Regions from separate parts of the Homo sapiens genome. Here region 2 is linked to region 1. The links come from fine-mapping of genetic effects on plasma protein levels. Region 1 holds a variant in brackets. A gene starts in the other region. All regions are shown on their forward strands.

Region 1 (11,028 bases):
TTCTGGGTGTGATGTTAGATCATTTATTTGAGATCTTTTTAACTTTCTGAGGCAGGTGTTTAGCACTATTAACTTTACTGCTTTTGCTGCATCCCAGAGCTTGTGGCATGTTGTTTCTCTGTTTTTATGTATTTCAAATAATTTTATTTCTGCCTTAATTTTATTGCTTACCCAAAAGTCATTCAGAAGCAAATTGTTCAATTTCCATATAATTTTGTGGCTTTTAGAGATCTTCTTGGTATTGACTTGTATTTTTATTCCAGTGTGGTTTCAGAGTATAGTTTGTATGATTTTATTTTTTTGTAATTTATTAGGATTTGCTTTATGGTTAAGCATGTGGTCAGTCATGGAGTATGTTTCATGTGCAAATGAGAAGAATGTTTATTCTGTGGTTGATGGGTGGATTATTGTGTAAATGTCTATTAGGTCCAATTGTTCAAGTGGAATTTAAGTCCTGAATTTCTTTCTTAGCTTTCTGTCTCAGTGATCTGTCTAACGCAACCAGTAGAGTATTGAAGTCTACCAGTATTATTGTGTTGCTGTCTAAGTCTTTTCATAGTCTAGAAGTCATTGGTTTATGAATCGGTTCTCCAATGTTGAGTGCATATATATTGAAGACAGTTAACGATTCCTGTTGAATTCAACCTTTTATTATTATACAATAATACTTCTTTGTCCTTTTTTTACTGTTGTTGGTTTAAAGTCTGTTTTATCTGATGTAAGAATAGTGACCACTGCTCTTTATTTGTTTTCCATTTTGCTTGACAGATCTTTCTCCAACCCTTTACTTTGAGCCTATGGTTGTCGCTGCTTGTGAGAAGGGTCTCTTGAAGACAGCAGATGGATGGGTCTTGTTTTTTTTGTTTGTTTGTTTAATCCAACTTGCAACTCTGTGCCTTTTAACTCTGTGTTTGGACAATTTACATTCAAGGTTAATATTGAAATATGAGGTTTTTGTACTTTGAAGTTGTTAGCTGATTGCTTTGTAGTTTCTACTTTGTGGTTGCTTTTTACGGTCTGTGGGCTCTAAAATTAAGTATGATTTTGTGGTAGCAGTCATCATTCTTTCATTCCCATGTTTAGAGCTCCCTTAAGAATCTCTTTTAAGGCTGATCTAGTGGTAATGAATTCCCTGAATGTTGGCTTGTCTGGAAAATTATTTCTCCTTTGCCTTATGCAGCTCAGTTTTGTGGGATATGTAATTATTTTTTGGAATTTCTTTTCTTTGAGAATGCTTAAAATAGGCTCCTATCCTCTTCTAGCTTGTAAGTTTGCTGCTGAGGAGCCTGCTGTTAGCTTTGTGAAGTTCCCTTTTTATGTGATCTGATCTTTTTCTCTAGCTGCCTTTAAGATTTTTTTCATTAATATTGACCTTGAATATCTGGCTACTATATACCTTGGTCATGTTTATTTTGCATAACATCTAACAGGTGTGCTCTGGATTTCTTGTATGTGGATGTCTACTCTTTTGCAAGATTAGGGAGATTTTCTTGAGCTACTCTTTTGCAAGATTAGGGAGATTTTCTTGAGCTATTCCTTCCAATATGTTATTCAGGTTGTTACTTTTTTCTCTCTCTCAGAAATGCCAAGAATTCATAGGTTTTGTTGCTTATGCAATCCCATATTTCTTTAAGACTTTGTTCATTTTTGTATGACTGGAATAGTTCAAAAGACTGGTCTTCAAGTTCTAAAATTCTTTTTCTTGGTCCAGTGTCTTGATAAAGCTTCCAATTATATTTTGAAATCCCTGAAGTAACTTTTTTTCAATTCCAGAAACTCTGATTGATTTCTTTTTAAGATGTATATCTCTTTCTTAATTTTCTGGATTGATTTAGAGGTTTCTTTGTGTTGATTCTCAACATTATCTTGGATCTTGTTTAGCTTCCTTGCAATCTATGCTTTGAATTCTTTATCTGTCATTTCTCAGTTTCCAATTTCATTAGGGACCATTGTGGAGAGTCAATGTGATGCTTCAGTGTTGTCACTACATTCTCATTTTTCATGGTGCCAGAATTCTTGCCCTGGTTCCTTCTTATCTGGAGATCCTGGCACTTCTAATTTTTGTAATTATTTTCATGTGGGCAGAATTCAATCTTTCTCTCTCTCTCCTTTAGACATAGTTCTGCTCTGTCACCCAGGCTGGAATGCAGTGGTGTGATTATGCCTTACTACATCCTCCACATCTTTGGCTCAACTGATCCTCCCACCCCAGCTTCCCTAGTAGCTGAGACTACAGGTACACACCACCATACCTGGCTATTTTTTGGTGGGGGGAGCAGGGGAGAGGCAACGTTTTACTTTTTCCCAGGCTGGTCTTGAACTCCCGGGCTCAAGAGATTCTCCAACCTCAGCCTCACAAAGTGCTCAGATTACAGGTGTGAGCCACTTTATAATGTCATTTTTTTCTTTCCCTTTCCCTTTCCCCTTCTTCCTAGTGAGTGTGAAAGTAGCAAATGTTAGGTTGGGTATTTTGGCTTTGCTTCTACAGCCCTATGCACTTCTGTCAGCAGGTTTTATACTGGGCTGTGTTCTTTGACTTACAAACCAGTAGATGGTGCATATGGGTAACAGCCAGCTGTGGATAACCTGGCTGGGTATATAATTCATCCTTGTTTACTGGAAGACGCTCTCTGTTGTCCCAAGCAATGGGCTGACCATGGAGTTCACAGTGGTCTGAGCTCCCTGCTAAATCCTAGGGCAGCAGGGGGCAGAATGGTTAGAGACAGACTGGGCAGGCCCACCTATAGTTCCCCTGATGGCAGGCACAAGCACTAATGCCAGGGGAGAATCCAGTGAGTGGTCACCCAGCACCCAGAGGTATGCCTAGGTGTGTGGCTAGGAAGCCACACAATCTCAGGAAGCAGGCTGCAGCAATTAGCAATGACACATGCAGACCGGTTCCAGGCATCAAACTGGTCCTGGCTGCAAGTCTCATCTCCCAAAAGAAATTTCAAGCATAGCAACTCTTCTCCCACACCAGGCCTGTAACTGAGGAGAGCACAGTTCCAGTACCTACTGCTGACGTACTTTACATAATTCTGGCTGTGGAAGCCTCTATGCTTCTCCAGAACAAGTGCTCCAATCTCTGCTCCAAGGCAAAAATGCCTGCACAGCTATGCTTCTGAGTTGCCATAACTTTGTATGCACCTGGATTTAAAATGCGATCCTGCTCTCAGTCCCAGGTCTGGGAAATTGCCTGTAACTTCTTTCTCTCTCAGAGCCTCCAAACCTTTCCCCAAGTTAGGTCTGGAGTTTGGGAGAAATAAAGTGCTCTCTCTTGGCCTGGGTTGTTGGATCCACAGTGGGAAGGTGAGTCACAGAGGGAGGCTCTCTGCCTCTCACATACTCGAACTTTACTAACTTTTATGAGCCACACACCATACAAAGGAGGATCTAGGGTGTCCTTCACGATTCTGATAGGTTTCCATCTTCCTTCTTGAATTAAAGCTCAGAGAGTTGACCTTTGTGTGCTGTCTTGCTATTTCCAAGTGGCTGAGACATGCTAAAAAACTCTGATTTGCCATCTCGGGAAAAACAAAACAAATCAAAAGAGACGAAAAACAAAAACACCTTACTAATTTTTGTATCAGTTTTGTATAATCCAAATTATTTTCTTGTTTGAAAATGTCCACTTTTTTTTGCTTTTAAATTAATCAATTTGTGGTAACGTTTCTTTTTTCTTTTCTTTTTTTTTTGTTTTTTGAGACAGAGCCTTGCTCTGTCATCTAGGCTGGAGTGCAGTGGCACAATCTCAGCTCACCGCAACCTCTGCCTCGTGGGTGCAAGCAATTCTCCTGCCTCCGCCTCCCGAGTAGCTGGGACTACAGGTGCCCACCACTACGCCTGGCTAATTTTTCGTATTTTTAGTAGAGACGGGGTTTCACCATGTTGGCCAGGATGGTCTTGATCTCCTGACCACGATCCGCCTGCCTCAGCCTCCCAAAGTGCTGGGATTACAGGCGTGAGCCACCTCACCTGGCCAATTTGTGGTAATGTTTGTTAACCCACTTATCTGAAAATAATGCTTCTTCTGAATTCTTGCTTAAAATTGTTTCTGTTAAAATTTTACACTTTTATTCTTTGTCTTCTTGTTTCCAGTGTTGTCAATGACAACACTGTGGTCCATCTGATTATAATTTTTTGCATGTAATCTTTTATCCTCCAATTTTCTCTGGAAGCTGTTTAGTATTTTGTCTACATGTTTGTTCTGTTTTTTAATGTAGAATTTGTTTTTGCTATTATTTTTCTTACTTTGCTTCTAAAATGCAGGCCCTTTTGGATATAAATCATATGTTTTTGATGTCTGTGAAATTTTCCTTTTTGTTTCCTTGAACATTCCTTTTCCCATATTATCTGTATTCTCTCCTTTTGTAAATCTTATCAGGTGGATGCTGTAACTTTTAGAGCATCACAAAGTGGTTACTAACAGCCTAAACACCTCTTGCAGACATAGCTTGCCTAGCCTGTACAATGTTTTGAAAATAATTATTCAGATATATTACAATTGGTAGATTTTATCTAAAAATATAGATTGCTTACTTTTTTTGCAAAGTGGAAGAGTTGGTAAACTGAACTTGCATTTATGAATGAAAACAATTGTCAGAAAGTAAGTAGTTGCTTCTGCTTTTAGATGGGATATACGTGCTCCAGATTGCCACTGTCCTTTGTGTGCCCTTTGGTCTTCCTGACCCTAAACCCAAGTATCGGTTGCTATGCATCATCATGCTTGCGCTATTTTTTTTTCCAGTTGGAGACAGACATCCTTCAATTGTGTATCTTTCAACGTGTTCACAAGAAAGAGAAAAAGCACAATTTGTTTCCAAAAAGAACAATTATTTCTTAAACTATTTTTTTTTACATATTTATACTGTTAACAAAATGTTGGAAGGTGCCTATACACATACACACACACACACACACACACACTAAAAACAAAGCTTATCATGAATCTATGGAAAGATTCGTGATAAAAATCTTAATGAACTAAAATATGAACTAAAATTTCCACAGGCTTAATTTTTGAATACATATAAAATAAGTTATGTTGTTATAATATGTTACTATGAATTCGTTACAAAATTGCCCAGATGGCATTTTTATTACAGATGGTAGTTTTATAAAAGAGTATCCATTGGAGGCAATAGAAATTATATGTCCTCAACAGAAACAAACATTGAAAATGTAACTAACACTGGAGATTTGGCTAAGAATTTACAGGCTGTGCTGGGAGAAAAAAATAAGTCATTTGTGGCATTGTGTTTTGTAGCTGATGATAACACAGCTATAAATAATGCCAACTATTTATTTATTTATTTTTATTTTTATTTATTTATTCATTTATTTATTTTTTCGAGACGGAGTCTCACTCTGTCACCCAGGCTGGAGTGCAATGACGTGGTCCTGGCGTACTGCAGCCTCTGCCTCCTGGTTCAAGTGATTCTCCTGCCTCAGTCTCCCAAGTAGCTGGGACTACAGGCTCATGCCACCACACCTGGCTAATTTTTGTATTTTTAGTAGAGCCGGGGTTTTGCCATGTTGGCCAGGCTGGTCTCAAACTCCTGACCTCATGATCCGCCCGCCTTGGCCTCCCAAAGTGCTGGGATTACAGGCATGAGCCACCACGCCTGGCCAATGCCAACCATTTAAATGTATCTACTTATCATCACTGACATTTTTTGTATGTTTAAATAATATTTGGAGATGGTAGCCATGACAGGC[C/T]CCAAATTACTTAATCTTTAGCGTTGAGAAAACTTTAAAGCAAATTGATCAAAATTAACTAGTGTATTTATAGATAATACTTAACTGGTGATCAATGTTAGACTTTTTAAAAAGATAACATTTTGCAGATATGGAATTTATGTTTTTACGTTACATTATTTTCCAGAAATAGTTTTGTCAAAAAAAGTTTGAGAACAGAACATATAATAAACTGAAATTCTTCTTAAAATTTTAAAAGTCTTTATATTTCAGAGTAAATCCAAGTCCTTCCCATGACTTACACACAACAAAGTCAATGCCATTCAGCCCCCACCCCCAACAGACTACTTTGACCTCATCTTCTAATGCTCTCCCCTTTGCTTTATCCATTTTGGACATTTTACGGGCCACATGTACAACAGCTCTGTGCCTTAGAGCCATTGTACTTGCTCTTCCCTCTGCTTTCAAAATTCTCTCACAAAGAGTTGAAGGACTGGATCTTTCACTCCATTTGGATATTTCCCAGTTTATTTCTCAGTGGTGTCTTCTCTAGCCAGCGTATTTAACACAGAATCCCCCATCCCTGCCACCTGCTAAACCACACCTTATATTGATTTTCTGCTTTTCTTTTTCTTCACAGCTATACATCTTATTGTCCATATAAATTATTTTCTGCCCCCATCCTCCCAACACACTCAAACCCACATATATGCTTGGAAAGTAAATTCCATGAGGACAGGGCATATTGTTTTTGTATTCTGTTTCATTTGTTTGTTTGTTTTATTTTCAATCCCAGAGTTTTGAAAAGTGTCTCTAACATCAAAGGTTCTCAATAACTATTTGTTGGATGACTAAATGAACGAAGAGAATTTGGTATGTTTTTAGATCTAAAACCTTAGTCTGCTCAAGGTTTTGCTGAGCTGACGAGACACACAATAAGAAATTATTTAGCTTGGCAAGGATATAGAGTTAAAGAAAATTTTATGCTGTTGAAAGAAATCAACATATTCATATCATCCACAGCAAAATTCTTACCCCAGATCACCCAGCAAATGTTGAATTACGTAACTGACCTTTTGGTTGACATTATCCCACATAGTTAAAATATTCTTCCAAATATAATTTCTCTGCAAGTGTGTGCACATGCATTCATATAAGTGTATAAATCAATTTGATTGCCCTGGCAAATAAATATACAGTCATGTGTCACTTATGGTGCAGATACATTTGGAGAAATCTATCATTAGGTGATTTTGTCCTTGTACAAACATTATAGGGTGTTACTTACATACACCTAGAAGGTGTAGCCTACTACACATCTAGACTATATGGTATAGCCCATGGCTTCTAGGCTATAAACCTGTACAGCATGTTACTGTACTGAATACTGTAGGCAATTGTAACACAATGGTAAGTATTTGTATATCTAAAAACATCTAACCATAAAAAGGAACAGTAAAAATGTGGTATAAAAGATAAAAAATGATACACCTGTATAGGGCACTTACCATGAAGGGTACTTGCAGGACAGGAAGTTGGTTTGGGTGACTGAGTGATGTGTGAACATGAAGGCCAAGGACATTACTATACATGAGTGTAGACTTTATAAACACTGTACATTTAGGCTATATTAAATTAATTCAAAATATTTTTTTCTTTAAAATAAATTAATCTTAGCTTATTGTACTCTTTCACTTTATAAACTTTTATTTTTTAAACTCTTTTGTAATACCATTTGGCTTAAAATATAAATACATTTATACAGTTGTACAAAAAGGTATTCCTTATATTTTATTCTATAAGCTTTTTTCATTTTTAACTTTTTTTTTACACTTCTTTTGTTAAAAACTGAGGTAAAAACACACACATTAGATTCTACACAGGGTCAGGATCATCAATATCACTGTCTTCCACATCCACCTCTTGTCCCCCTGGAAGGTCTCCAGGAACAAGAACATGCATGGGGCTGTCATCTCCTATGATAACGGTGCCTTCTTCTGAAATGTCTCCTGAAGGACCTGCGTGAGGCTGTTTTATACTTAAATTTTTATAGCAAGATGAAGCAGTATGCTCCAAAATAATGATAAAAAGTTTAGTAAATACGGAAACCAATAACAATCATTTGTTATCATTATCAAGTATTATGTACTGTACTTAACCATACGTGTTATACTTTTATACAACTGGCAGCACATAGGTTTGTTTAGACCAGCATCACTATGAACATGCAAATAATGTGTTGCCCTACATTGTTATAACTACTACATTACTAGATGATAGGAATTTTTCAGCTCCATTATAATCTTATGGGAATACCACTGTATGTGTGATCTGTCGTTGACTTGAAATAATGTTATGTGGTATGTGCCCTTATACGGGAAACTCATTTGGCTCATTTGTCTATGCTGACATTTTTTTCTTAAATGAACATGATTTCCTAAAATATTTTTCCTGTAATGTACTGTAAATACTGAATTCAAAAATGTGTTTCTGATATAAACCATTACGTAGTGGAACTATTATTGAGTTTGCCTTTCTCCATCAAACCTGATAGTGGCAACAAAGATTTAGGAAAAGATGTTATTGAATTACAGTGCATATGGTAATGTAAAACAAATATGACAACAACAGAATACCAGCATTTTACCAATATCTTAGAATTACTTTAAGATATTGCAAAGATTCTGTTCAGGTTTTTGATAATGAATGATATGAAATATTGCTCCTAGGTAAGAGTATAAGCCCAAATTCTCTATTACATATGTATTTTCCAAAAACCAAAATTCATTATCGAAATTTTGGGGCGGAGGAAAACATTCCGGCTCTCCTGTTCTGTACAGAGGGAGTAACACAGTACAAAAATATATATTAATGTATATTTAATGTCTGTGTTTTCAATGACAGGTTTAATTAGTAACTTAAGTCCTATATGCTTCTGTTATGAAACATACTTACAAATAAGATAGCCCAGTTTATTTTATTTTATTTTATTACTTCCTAATTGCTAAAGGCATTAAGGCTAGCTTCCCTAAGCTGAGGTGTGGGGAGTGTGCATTGGACTGAATCTTCCTAAATTACATAACGTGGAGAGCTTTTGCTGTGGGGACAAATGACTCTGAGACTTTCTAGTTCTTCGCAAAAAGATTCCGTGATTTCACTGGAGAAAAACTCTACAGGTTTTCTTTTTGGTTGTTTTTTTGTTTTCTTTTGTTTTGCTTTCAAAATTTTCCCTGTATGGTTGAAAGAGATGAAATTCTGTGCACAGGGGATCCTTTTTATTTTGTGCAAGTTTTTTCTTTTTGTACTTTGTTTTTTAGCTTCTTGACACTGTTCTTTGACTTCATTTTTTTCCCTGCCTTTCTGATAGGTTTACAGTTATATTATCCTATTTTAAGTCTAGTCATTTGATTTTTATCTATTTTTCTCATCCTCTTTACTCTTAATTTTTTAAATAAATTGATCTGGAGATATCTTGAAAGATACAATTATACTTGATATATTTGTTTAAAGTAACTATTTTTCTAAGTGACTTTTAACAAATCATTTGATACTTAAGATAAAAATTCTCATTCCTTTATATATTAAACTTTAACATATACCTTACATTTGTTTCCTATTATAATTGATTTCTTCATTCATCTGAATTTTTATCACATAAAATATCATTAAATCTTCTAAATATATGGAATATTTGACAATGGTGTTTATTATTTTATTCTTAAATTAGTTTCATAGCCATTTTAATGTATTCATTCTTCCTTATGGTATTTTAAATCACTTGATCAATTTGAGAATATCTCCTTCGAGATTTTGCTGGAAATTTCATTGTCCATATATTAGGAAAAAATTCTGCTATTATAATATTTATATTTCACTTTAGAACTATATACCTTTCTTTTATTTACATTTTCTTTCATTCCACAGTAAAGAGTTCACGGCATTCTTTAAGCAACTCTTACACATTTCTAATTGTTAGCCTGATTTAATTCCATACATATAAATTATATATGTGTGTATATACACACACACACACACACACACACACACACACAAACAATTTTCCTTAAAATGTAAAATGTAAAAATTTGCCAAGATACTTCCATTTTCTTTTTCTTTTTTAATTATACTTTAAGTTCTAGGGTACATGCGCACAATGTGCAGGTTTGTTACACATGTATACATGTGCCATGTTGGTGTGCTGCACCCATTAACTCGTCATTTACATTAGGTATATCTCCTAATGCTTTCCCTCCCCCCTCCCCCGACCCCACGATAGGCCCTGGTGTGTGATGTTCCCCTTCCTGTGTCCAAGTGTTCATTTATTTTAGATCTTATGAACTATTTTCGAGCTGCATGTTTAGTTCATGTTTTTAAATTGTGATAGATTTTATTTCCCATAAATTTGCTTATAGATTTAGCTTAATTTATTGGGATTTTTTTTTTCTGCTAGAATCTCTATATTTGAAAAAGAAAAAATTCTTCTCCTTTCTCTATATCTGTTAAATCTTCTTAGCATTGCCATATCTTTGTTCTTTTATTTTTTTTCTTCTGAAATTTGAAAGAACATTGATGCTGGTCATTTTACGACATTAAAAAATTAAAAGTTAATTTTCTGGGTAATGCCTGATCTTTAAATTATTTTTACAGTAGGTTTTAATTAACCTACTAGATTTTCATGATCTTAAAATTATTTTTTATCTTGCTATTTTATTTTACCTTTCACATTAGCTAACTGCCTTCATCTGGACTACTTATAATATTTTAATATTGGCTTATAATTGCATTTATTTCTGACTTGTTTGAAGACTTGAGGCAGATATTTGAAAAATATTCATTTCTTATGCTAATTTTCAAGAGATTAGTTCTCATCTGGAATAATAATGCTACTTTTTTTTGCACTACGCTCTTTAATAGTTTCCAGACTAGTTTAATTATTCATATGTGAAAGAAGATAAGTGTTATATCGAGCATTTGTTAAAAATAGGTTGCTATAATTGTTTTTAGAGCCTCTTCATGTACTTGGGTGATGATAGACTCTTACCATGGCAAAGTGAGTTTAGATGTGTGTAGCGTACAGTTCAGTGTAAAGATGTGTATAGTGTATAGTTCAGTTTCTGGTAACTGTAGGCTTTCATGTTACATTGTTCTGCTGAAGTAATATTTTTTTTCTCTTTCTTGCTTACATTAAAAAAAGTTTCTGAGAATTAATTCTCAAGAAAGGCAAGCAGAGTTTTTTATTTCTCTCTAGATGTGGAACCAGATTAAAGCAAATTTTGCAGTGCAAAATTGAAGGGGTGCCAAAAAACAGGAATCAAGACAAATTTTATAGGT
Region 2 (11,028 bases), not on the chromosome of region 1:
ACTGCCTTTTTCTTTCCAAAAAGCTTCTAGACCAGAGCACTGGGAATGTTCTTGTAAAATTCAGCCATGGAAAAAACAGGGTTTTGTTCTATGACAAAGTCTCCTTGACTGTGACATAGAAATGAACTCTATTTTTATTAGTCACTTCTATATGTGGTCCATTGAAGTGGAAATTTTTTTTTTTTTGCTCTTATGTTTAACATGAACCAATTCTTAGGCTGCTTATATCCTTTTCTAATTTTTAATGTATGAAATCTCAATACTAGTCTCCATTGTTTTCCCCAGGAGACAATTTCTTTCTAATAGTCCGCAACTATGTTAGGTTTAGGGCTGGCATCACCATTCCATGATTCTCCCTTTAGTGGGCTTTCTGAGTTGAAGAGTCCCTGGTCCTATTAATCCCCATAGGACATTTTGAGACACTGGAGCTCAAACTTCTTAGTTGGGATTAGAGGATTCAGCCACAGATGGTTGCTAGTTTCTGATTCTAGTTGGTTATTTCTGCCCACCACCATTGGTGCATCTGTCTTCTATGGAGGCTGCTGCCCTAATCAACTAGGGTAGGGTGGGTTGTTGGATTTGGAACTATGAATACCAAACACATCTTACAGAATCCAAGCCTGGGAATGCATGCTGTGAAAGCACAGAATTGAATATGGACTTGGCTGACAGATAGATCTGCTTTACCATTTACTATGGGTTTTTGTGAGGCTGGGTCAACTTTAGGTTATTTTCCTTAATCATTTTGAGTATAAACTTGCTATTTTTAGATCAAGGTAAAACACTGAAAAAGAACACTTGGCTGGTAAGATTGCATCAGAAAATTGTATATTTTTAGAGGGCCTGCTTTAATATTCTTATTATTTATACATCAAAATTGTAATAGTCTGTAACTATTACAAATAAACTGATCATTATTAATAATAAATTAATATATTTCTTGATTTATTTGTTTCATTTTTTTTCCCAAGAAAGAGAAACAAGTTCATATAGATTTGTTTTCACACTTTACATAGGAGGTAGGGAGGAATTAACACTTACCTGCATTTTACCAGTAGAGAAACTGAGGCCCAGGCACCACAAAGAATATATCTCAGGTCATACTAGCTGGACTTTCACAGAGATGTTAGTAGAAGCCTGGCCTCTTGATTCTGCAATCCAGGCTTATTGGCAGGAACCCAACCAAGAGCATCCAGCACGTGTTTACCTGCATGGCGAGGCCAGTACTGTAGATGTCTCCAATGATGCCATTATCTTTGATCTTCATGCTGATTTTCTCCACAATATCCTTTAGTACCTGACCAAACAGGGATCTGTAACCTTCCTCTGAACCTACAGGGATCTTGTTGTACATACAGGTCAGAGCCAAGGTTGCCATTGCTCCTGTGTCTGTGAATGACAGAGGGTATAAGATCACCATAGTCACCATCACAGCAATATGAACAGCTAACATTTATTGTGTGCTTATTATATTCTGGCTCCATGATTTTATTTGCTCCTCAGAACAACCTGTGAAACAGTACCTGTAATCATCTCCATTTAAGAGACAAAAAATGGAGGCTCAGAAAAATTAAGTAAGCAGCAGGGCCAAATCTCCATTTGAAAGTTGCATAACTTCGTTAAGGGTGCTAGTGTTACTGACAACCAGAAGTAAATAAGTCCAAATTTTTGGAGGCAGAGATGCCCCAGAAATGTGTGAGGTCCCAGATGTGAAAGGGAGACCAGTCTGTTCTTAACCCCCAGGGAGGATCCTAGAGCAGTGGTTCACCTGTTTGTCTGACAGAAACTGAAACAAGAGAGGTTGCTGATGGGGCATGCATAAGGGAGTGAAAACCTGAGATAATACTATTGCTTAGAGAGTTGGCAGAGGAGAAAAGGTGATCATGAATGCGGGCTGTGACAGTGGCCCCCACAGAGAAGGATCATTATCCATAGAAGGGGACAGAAGGAGGACATGATGTTGTAGAGGGAAAAGCTTCTATTCACAAGCAGCCATATGCTTGCAGAACAAAGACGCAAGGTGGTCCCCGAGTTGCCATGAAGGGAAATATCACGAGTTAGGGTTCCGAGAGTAGCTGTTTAATGGAGAGAGGATATTTGGATGTAATGAGGAGAAGCATCGAAAAGAATGGAGTGTGGGAGCATCAGTAGTGATTAAAGAGAGGATGCAGAGGAGAACTGAAGCAAGACATTCATATTTAATTTGGGAAGAACTTCTGACTTGAATGGCATTACTATTGTTCCCAGCGGAGATTCTGTAGCTGCCAGACATATCAAGTATTATCAATTGTCCTTGTTTCTACATAATACTACCCCCTCTTCCTTCACTTACTCCTCAATTCACCTGCCCAACAAACATCTGGTAAATATCTCCCATCCACAGGCACGTTCACATCCTTAGCTCCTCCTCCATGGGACGCTCTCCTTTGTCACTTCCCTGCCAGCTCCACCATTCAGTTCACGATGCCTCTGATGTTCCCAGCTCGGGGTAGTGGTGACCTACTCACCTACATTGAAGGGAGAGGAGTTGGCCAGCAGGGTCTTGGCAAAGCGGACGGCTATCGGCAAGGTCGCCTCAGAGTTCTTCTGGCACAGTGCCAAGATCGCTAGACTGGGCCCATAGAAGGCTGATGCTTCAGCGTTGGGGCCTCCGAAGGGGATAGAGAACCTTCATCAGACTCACAGTCACCACGATGAGGACATTTGCAAAGAAGGAAAAGCCAAGCCTTTGAAAAGGAAATTGCTAGAAAACCTGCCCCCAAAGAGAGACACAGCATAGGCAAAGAGCAACTTCAGTGTTTTTCAAAAGAATGTCATCAGGCATCTGCAAAGAATAAAAGGGATGACTCTGTGTCTTTAGACAGGTGATGGCTGGACAAGCTTGTGTCCTTGGGATCATGACCTTTTCTAGTTCATTTTGGATTGGAAATGAATCTTTCTGGTCTGGATTATCAGAAGGACCAGAGTGAAGGATACATTGTCTCTTCCCTAACTTGCCTTTCTCTCCACCCCCACCCTTTTCCTTTCTGGGTTTAAAATTCTTAGGTAAAACCATATGCCTGACTCTTTTCTCCCTTCCAGTCAGGTCTTACTGGAAGGTGCCCAGTTCTCCATTTGTCTTTGTAGAATGGATACTTTATCCCCAGGGTCTCGGCAGGAGGAGGTGAGGGCCATGATGGTGAGGCCGAGCTGCCCAATGGTTAGATCTGCAGAGAAGAGAACACAACGGTTAGACAGAGACATCCTCAGGGGACAGCTCTCCAGGAGCCAGTGATGAGTTCTCTGCTTTTTATCTAGAGCATTTTGACTTTTTAATAATATGAGCAGTTCTTTGATCTGTCTTTCCAAAGAAAAAAATATGGAAGAATACGTAAGGGAATATTTAATCTAGTGGCCTCTGTGTAACTTGATGACTCTAGTATTTGGTATTTGAGAATCCCTGGTATTTGATTAGAAAAGCAGCAAAATACTCATATAGATTTATATACAGAAATTTACAGTTGCAAAATAATTTAAACTTTATCTAACTTGAGCCTGCAGGCAGCTCCTGGGAGATAGGCAGAACAGAGATTTTATTATTATTATCATTGCTATTAGTAGTAGTAGGGTTATTGTTACTACAATCATCTGCAAGGTGAGGCTGAGCAGTATCCAGTGACTTGTCTCAGATCCCAGAGTTATGACGTGGCAGAGCCAGAACCAGAAGGCTGCTCTTTCGACGTCTAGTCCAGAGCTCTCCCTGCTTTACTGACCTCCTCCATGAATGCTCTGACTTCACACATGTTTCTTTCCAGGTACCTTCCAGGTATGTAAGGAAAGGTGTTTGGGTAGTTTATTTACAGTCAGAGGCAGCATTGGGGTGGGAAGGACGCTGAGTTGGAATCTGGAGGTGGTATGTGATGTGTGAGATTCAGGGAGAGTGCGAGCGGCTCAGATGTCTCACCGTTGTTGTCGCTGGACATGAGCTGGTAAGTCAGGAGCTTCTGGGCCTTCAAGTTGTAGGCTCCGGCCAGATTCATGGCAATCAGGATGCTGGGGTTTGGGTAGGCTGATGAAGTCACCGAGTTCTCCATGAGTACTTGTATTCCATTGACCAAGGGCTCCTGTGCTGAGGGAACGGCTGAGAAGAGGAAAGCCATTTACTCACCTTCTAACCCTCATTCCTTCTCAAAAACATTATCCCCGTGTCTTTGATGCTTTTTCTTTCTTTCTTTTTTTTTTGAGACAGTGTTACTCTTGTTGCCCAGGCTAGAGTGCAATGGCACGATCTCGGCTCACTGCAAACTCTGCCTCCCAGGTTCAAGTGATTCTCCTGCCTCAGCTTCCTGAGTAGCTGGGATTACAGGTGTGCACCACCACGCCAGGCTAATTTTTGTATTTTTAGTAGAGATGGGGTTTCACCATGTTGGCCAGGGTAGTCTCGAATTTCTGACCTCAGGTAATCCACCCTTCTTGGCCTCCCAAAGTGCTGGGATTACAGGCGTGAGCCACCTCGCCTGGCCATCTTTGATGCCTTTTAGGAGAACACTTGATTAGCATTAGTGTCCTAAGTCACTAAAGAGAAATGGAGAAAATGGTGAGATTTTACTTTTGAGGACAATTAGTTTCTACATCTTCTCAAATAATCCATATCCTTAAGAAAGTGATTTTTAAATTTAGTAACTTCAAGCAATATGGCTCATGACATTTCTCATAGTTTCTATCACTTTCCTGGAAATCACTGATTTCCTTGCATTCATTTTTTTCCTTACTCTTTCATGAAGAGTATTAAAGATTTGGGATATAATTTATCCTCAGTGAGTACCAAAATCTCTCACTAGTATGTAGTGGTGTCTGGTCACAATAGCCACTGAGTGTCTGTCTTTGTACCATCAACCATTATTCCTGCAGTAGTACTTCCATCTCTATTATTTTTATTTATTGATTTTTTGAGACAGGGTGCTGCTGTGTCATCTAGGCTGGAGTGCAGTGGTGTGATTATAGCTCACTGCAGCCTCGACCTCCTGGGCTCAAGCGATTCTCCTACCTCAGCTTTCTGAGTAGCTGGGACCACAGGTGCATGCCACTGCGCCCAGCTAATTTTTTATTTTTATTTATTTATTTTTTTTGTAGAGATGGAGTCTCACCATGTTGCCCAGGCTGGTCTTGAACTCTTGGGCTCAAGCAATCCTCCTGCTTCAGTCTCCCAAAGTGCTGGGATTACAGGTGTGAGCCACTGCACCTGGCCCCATCTCTCTTAATAAAAAACATATAGACTTGTCTCTCAAAGAACTTATGCTATTAAGTCAGGAAGGATGAACAGCACACAATCACACTCAGACTTACCCATTTTGGAATTCCTATAGTGATTGCTATTTTCAACCACTCAGTGTCAGAGGTCACAGCCCCTTCCCCAGGGCAACTGCTTCCCTGACCTCCTTGGAAAAACATCATACTCACAGCATGAACTCTGGGTCTGGGTACTAGTCCCAGCTGTAGCCCAGAGAAGGCTCAGGAGGTAGAGGGCAAACCAGGCCATCTCACTCTCTCGTCTATGTCTCTCATCCACAGGTACCGCGATTTGCAAGTGGAATATTTCTTTACCTTCTCTTATATGTGCTTCCCTTTGTTAAATAATCTGTCCCCAACCCAGCCTCTCCTAACTGCCCCTGTGCTGACCTCTCCTTTCCTGATACAAGTAAGTAAATTTTCATTTGCTTATCTAAGTTTACCGACTATAGACCCTCCAAGGTGTCTGAAGGTGACTTCTAGGTTGCACAGTCATATGAGAAACCTGGGGCTGGGTATGCAGTGAAGGCAATGTTGAGAAAATGTCCTTTACCAAAGGCCTGGGTCAGACATCAGGAAGTTTGGATAATGTGCTAGTATCAACAAGACCTCTTCTAGCCCTTATTGTATCCAATCAGTTACCAGGCTGCTTTTTAGTAACTACTTCACTGGGATTTAGGCCATTCATAGGCATCAGCTCATTTTATGATCCTAGACACCTGCTTTACAACATGTCCTTTTAGGCTCTCAGGCAGGGATCTGCCAGGTGACATCTGGCTTTGTGAAATTAATGATGTCTACCTGGACCTGGATTCTAGCCTAGACTCTTTGAAGTTGTTTGACTTTAGGCAAGAAATGGACCTCGGTTTCCCAGAAATGGTTTTGTTTGATTTCTCTTTCCTTATCTGGAGATAAAAGCCATCTCAAACACCCAAAGCTTTCAGATATTATCTTTTAAAGTAAGTAATTAGAAAATGTGAGATCCATTAAGAATACATATTTCAGATGTGTAGCTACATTATAATGCAAATTATACTTCTTTATAAGGGAGAACTGAAAATGGTATGTTGAAATTATAAAGAAAGGAGTTTTGTTTGTTTTTTTCCTGCATGTAAAGTAGCTCATTTTAAGGGGATATTCTCCAGTGGCGCCCATCTTAGCATAAAAGTCAAAGCCCTTTTCATGACCTATAAGACCTTAGAAGATCTGGCTCCTGGTTTCCTTTCTGACCTCAGCTCCAGGCGTTTTCCCCTTTGCTCACACCGCTCCCATCACACAGAACTTCTTGTGCCCCTTGAACACATCAGCTACCTTTGCACATGATGTCCCCCTCAGCCCAGGACCCTCTTCTTTTAAATAGCCTCATGGTGGCTTCCTCACATCCTTCATGTCTCTGCTCAGAGGTAAGCTTTTAGAGACGCCTTCCCAGGCCACCCTACATAAGATCCTACATCCTCACCTCCACTGACACCCCTCATGCCCCTCGCCTGCTATAACTCATTGCCCTCTGTCGCACTAAGTGTGTGGTTGTTTATCGTTTGTTTATCTCCCTACTAGAATGTCTGCTCCACGAGGGAGGGGCTTTGTCTCTTTGGCTCACTGCTCTATCCTTAGCCCTTACAACACTACCTAGCTCACAGTAGAAATAAAATACTTTTTGAATGAGTGAATTAATGAGCAAATGTAAGACATGGGTAATAAAGCATTTTTTCCCCCTTGGGAAACATGGGTGAGTTTTGTGAGATGAGAGCACAGGGTACATACTGGGGTGTGCTGGACAACTTCTAACATGGCCCTGTGTTTTCACCTCCCGGTATTCATGCCTTGTGTAGTCCTCTTCCCTAGAGTGTGGGCTGGCCTGGGGCCACATTCTATTATAATGAATATAATGCAGCAAAGGTGATGGGATGTGGTTGCAAAAGACCGATTTCCCTCTTGCTTGCCTTCTCTCTCTTGCCCTTCCTGCTCTCATGAAGGCAGCTGCTAAGTGTGAGCTGCCTTATGGAGAAGCCCACATATGGCCCCTGAGAGTAGCCTCCAGCCGATATTCAGGGAGAAAAGAACCCTTCCCCAGTGAGCTTTGAGATGAAGGCAGCCCCAGCTGACATCTTGATTGCAGCCCTGGGAGAGACCCTCCTAAGCCAGAGGACCCATGTAAACCCTCCCTGGACTCCTGACCCACAGAAACTGTGGGATAATAAATGTTGTCTTAGGCCCCTAAGTTTTAAAGTCACTTGTTATGCAGCAATATATATCCAATACATGGTACATGGTGGAAGATGAGGCTGGAAAGACAGTTGGCATCTACTTGGTGGACAGCCTTGCATGCTGTGTGAAGGAGTAGGAGGCAGAATAATGGCACTGCCCACACACCGCCAAATGCCCATGCCCTAATCCCTGGAACTTGTGAACATGTTACGTGGGTTATATGGCCAGGAAGAATTAAAGATGCACATGGAATTAAGGTGGCTAATGAGCTGACTTTAAGAGAGGAAGGTTAGCTTGGATCATCTGGGTGGGCTCAATGTCATCACAGAGGTCCTTGTTAGTGGCAGAGGAAGGCAAGAGCGTTAGAATCAGAAAAGCAAATGTGATGTTAGAGGCAGAAGTCAGAATGATGCAATTGCTGGCTTTGTAGGTGGACAGGGGCCATGAGCCATGCAACGTGGGCAGCCTCCAGAAGCTGGAAAAGGCAAGGAAATGGATTCTTCTTCACAAGCTCTGTTACTAGGGGAGCCCTACGGAAATAGCTGGGAGGGCTTCTTATTTTCTTAAACTGTTGTTTTCCCTTAGCCTTTTTTTTTTTTTTAAGATTGTCCCTGTTCCTTTTTTTTCTTTTTTTTTTAATTATACTTTAAGTTTTAGGGTACATGTGCACAATGTGCAGGTTAGTTACATGTGTATACATGTGCCATGCTGGCGTGCTGCACCCGTTAACTCATCATTTAGCATTAGGTATATCTCCTAATGCTATCCCTCCCCCATCCCCCCACCCCACAACAGTCCCCAGAGTGTGATGTTCCCCTTCCTGTGTCCATGTGTTCTCATTGTTCAATTCCCATCTATGAGTGAGAACATGCGGTGTTTGGTTTTTTGTCCTTGCAATAGTTTACTGAGAATGATGATTTCCAATTTCATCCATGTGCCTACAAAGGACATGAACTCATCATTTTTTATGGCTGCATAGTATTCCATGGTGTATATGTGCCACATTTTCTTAATCCAGTCTATCATTGTTGGACACTTGGGTTGGTTCCAAGTCTTTGCTATTGTGAATAGTGCCACAATAAACATATGTGTGCATGTGTCTTTATAGCAGCATGATTTATAGTCCTTTGGGTATATACCCAGTAATGGGATGTCCCCTTAGCCTTTTTATCTATAGATGCCACTGCTTAAAGAGCTCCAGATGGCCCAGGATGCTTCAGGAGCTTCATGATCCCTTGCCAAATACCAGAGGAAGATAAGACCTGCACCAGACCGGTGCAAACCAGAACCGGCAACCCCTAGTTACTTTTAGATCATTAACATATCATTATAATACTAGATTCCTCTCCCTTAAAAGAAAATCGCTGCCATTTTGTGTACATGCGAGGTATGAAGAAGTATGTCTGGGGACTGCGCCTGCGTGTTTGGAACTCCACCCTCGGCCTGCTTACATACCTCCCTGCCCCATGTCTAACTCTTGAAAATTTCCCTGCTTCCCATTGCTTAAGGAGAATGCGCCTTTAGAGCGAGAGCTCCCCTTCTCCATTCCCTGGCCAGTGAATACGACCCAATTGCTTTTGTCCAATTGCATGTTCCTTCTTTGTGACCCATACAAAGTAGGGAAAGAACTTGGTTTACTGCTGCCACCTCTAGAAGGAACACAGCTCCTTCGACACCTTGATTTTAGCCCAGTGAGACTCTGACTTCCAGAACTGTGAGATGATAAATTTGTCTTAAATAACAAAATTAGTGGTAATCTGTTACAGCAACAATAAGAATCTAATACAGGATTATGAGTACAGTATGGTGCTGACTTTGCATTCCAGAGCCTGCTCCTGATCGTCCTGAGATGATCCACACACCCTTGGCCTGCCAGCTCTTTAACCACTCACTTCCTTGTATTATAAATTACCATTTACAACCAGGGCTGCTGCAAGATTGATCGTGACACAATTGTTGCAGTTAGTAAATAATTCCCAGAACAGGAACCACACAGGCCATACATTTCTTAACAGGGATATTTTGACAGTCCTTGGTTAACTATTGACTGGGATGATGTGTTCATTTATTTCCTTGTTTCTCCTGTGCCTAATATTTTGGTATCAAAGCACCTAGACTCTCTCTGGACATAAGTGAGGTTTATTTGTGGTGATTATTCTTTGCTGTGGCAGCAAAAGGAAGTTTCTCTCTTCAGACTCAGTTCAGGTTCTGTAATAGTCTCAAGCTGTAGGAGCTTCTTGTAAGGCAAGTGTGGCCAATTAGGTTTCTTATTTTTATTTTTATTTTTATGTTTTTCTGAGATGGAGTCTGGCTGTGTTGCCCAGGCTGGGGTACAATGGTGTGATCTCAGCTCACTGCAACCTCTGCCTCCCGGGTTCAAGTGATTCTCCTGCCTCAGCCTCCTGAGTAGCTGGGATTACAATTGCCTGCCAATATGCCCAGCTAATTTTTGTATTTTTAGTAGAGGTGGGGTTTCGCCATGTTGGCCAGGCTGGTCTCAAACTCTTAACCTCAGTTATCTGCCTGCCTTGGCCTCCCAAAGTACTGGGATTACAGGCATGAGCCACCACGCCTGTCCTCAGAACTAGGTTTCAAGGGCCGATGTTAGTGGAACCCTAAGGGAGTGTTATTTCATGTCTACTTCTGAGATTAAAGGCATTTATATCAGACAGCAATGTTACTTACTACATTATACTTTTTTTTTTTTTGAGACAGAGTCTAGCTCTGTTTCCCAGGCTGGAGTGCAGTGGCGCATTCTCGGCTCACTGCAGCCTCCGCCTCCCAGATTCAAGCGATTCTCCTGCCTTAGCCTCCCGAGTAGTTGGCACTACAGGCGCATGCCACCACACCTTGCTAATTTTTGCATTTTTAGTAGAGACGGGGTTTCACCATGTTGGCCAGGATAGTCTCGATCTCCTGACCTAGTGATCCACCTGCCTCAGCCTCCCAATGTGCTGGGATTACAGGCGTGAGCCACTGCGTCCGGCCTACATTATACTTTAAGACCTCTGGCTGGGAGAAACTAGGCTCTGTCTGTTAGAAATAAATGCTAGTAGTGCTAATTGCTAGTATGCAATTCTGACATTTTGCATATTTCTCACCTTAAACCAGTATCCTTCAATTTCACATAGCTTGTATAGGCTACAAACAGATCTGACGATTAACAGCACCAGGGATCCTGGAAGGGTAACATGGCTCCCAGCTTCTCTAATTTAGCTTTATTATTATTATTATTATTATTGTTATTATATTTTTAATTTTTGTGGGTACACAGTAGGTGTATATATTTTCTAACTTAGCTTTAAAGATGAGACACAGACCCAAGGGATAGAATCCATTTCTGTCCACTCATGAGGGTCATGTGTTACATCCAGTTAATGAAGACCAGGGCAGAGTTGAACCTGAGCATCGAGTATCAATAGCAGAAAGCAGTATGTTGGAAGAGGGTTCAATCTCTGACTGTGAAGCAGTGTCACTGGTGAAGGAGAGGAAGCTAGGATGATTGTGAAGAAAACACAGGAGAAATGAGGAAGACATTGTTAAAATAATTCA

Alleles and levels. Positions count from the first base shown, and alleles are read on the strand shown. Strength reflects both the effect of a copy and how common the allele is.
As copies of C replace T in region 1, the plasma level of the protein whose gene starts at base 5,564 in region 2 goes down (moderate association).

Evidence for each region. PIP is the posterior inclusion probability: the model's chance that the variant is causal. Protein levels are from antibody-based Olink assays in UK Biobank. Linkage for the fine-mapping came from a reference panel and not from the study's own genotypes, which makes the PIPs less certain.
Region 2: CBLIF starts here. The variant in region 1 is fine-mapped to the plasma level of the CBLIF protein (UK Biobank, PIP above 0.99).

The regions. Positions count from the first base shown.
Region 1 is chr6:119,939,707-119,950,734 of GRCh38, forward strand. No RefSeq gene overlaps it. Among named protein-coding and RNA genes, the nearest start is that of MIR3144, 70 kb to the right of the region's middle. The variant C/T (reference allele first, on the strand shown) is at 5,719.
Region 2 is chr11:59,839,936-59,850,963 of GRCh38, forward strand. CBLIF (cobalamin binding intrinsic factor) reads right to left here and starts at 5,564. Exons shown (of 9, transcript NM_005142.3): 1 at 5,440-5,564; 2 at 3,944-4,120; 3 at 3,093-3,206; 4 at 2,508-2,648; 5 at 1,208-1,389. The coding sequence starts at 5,518.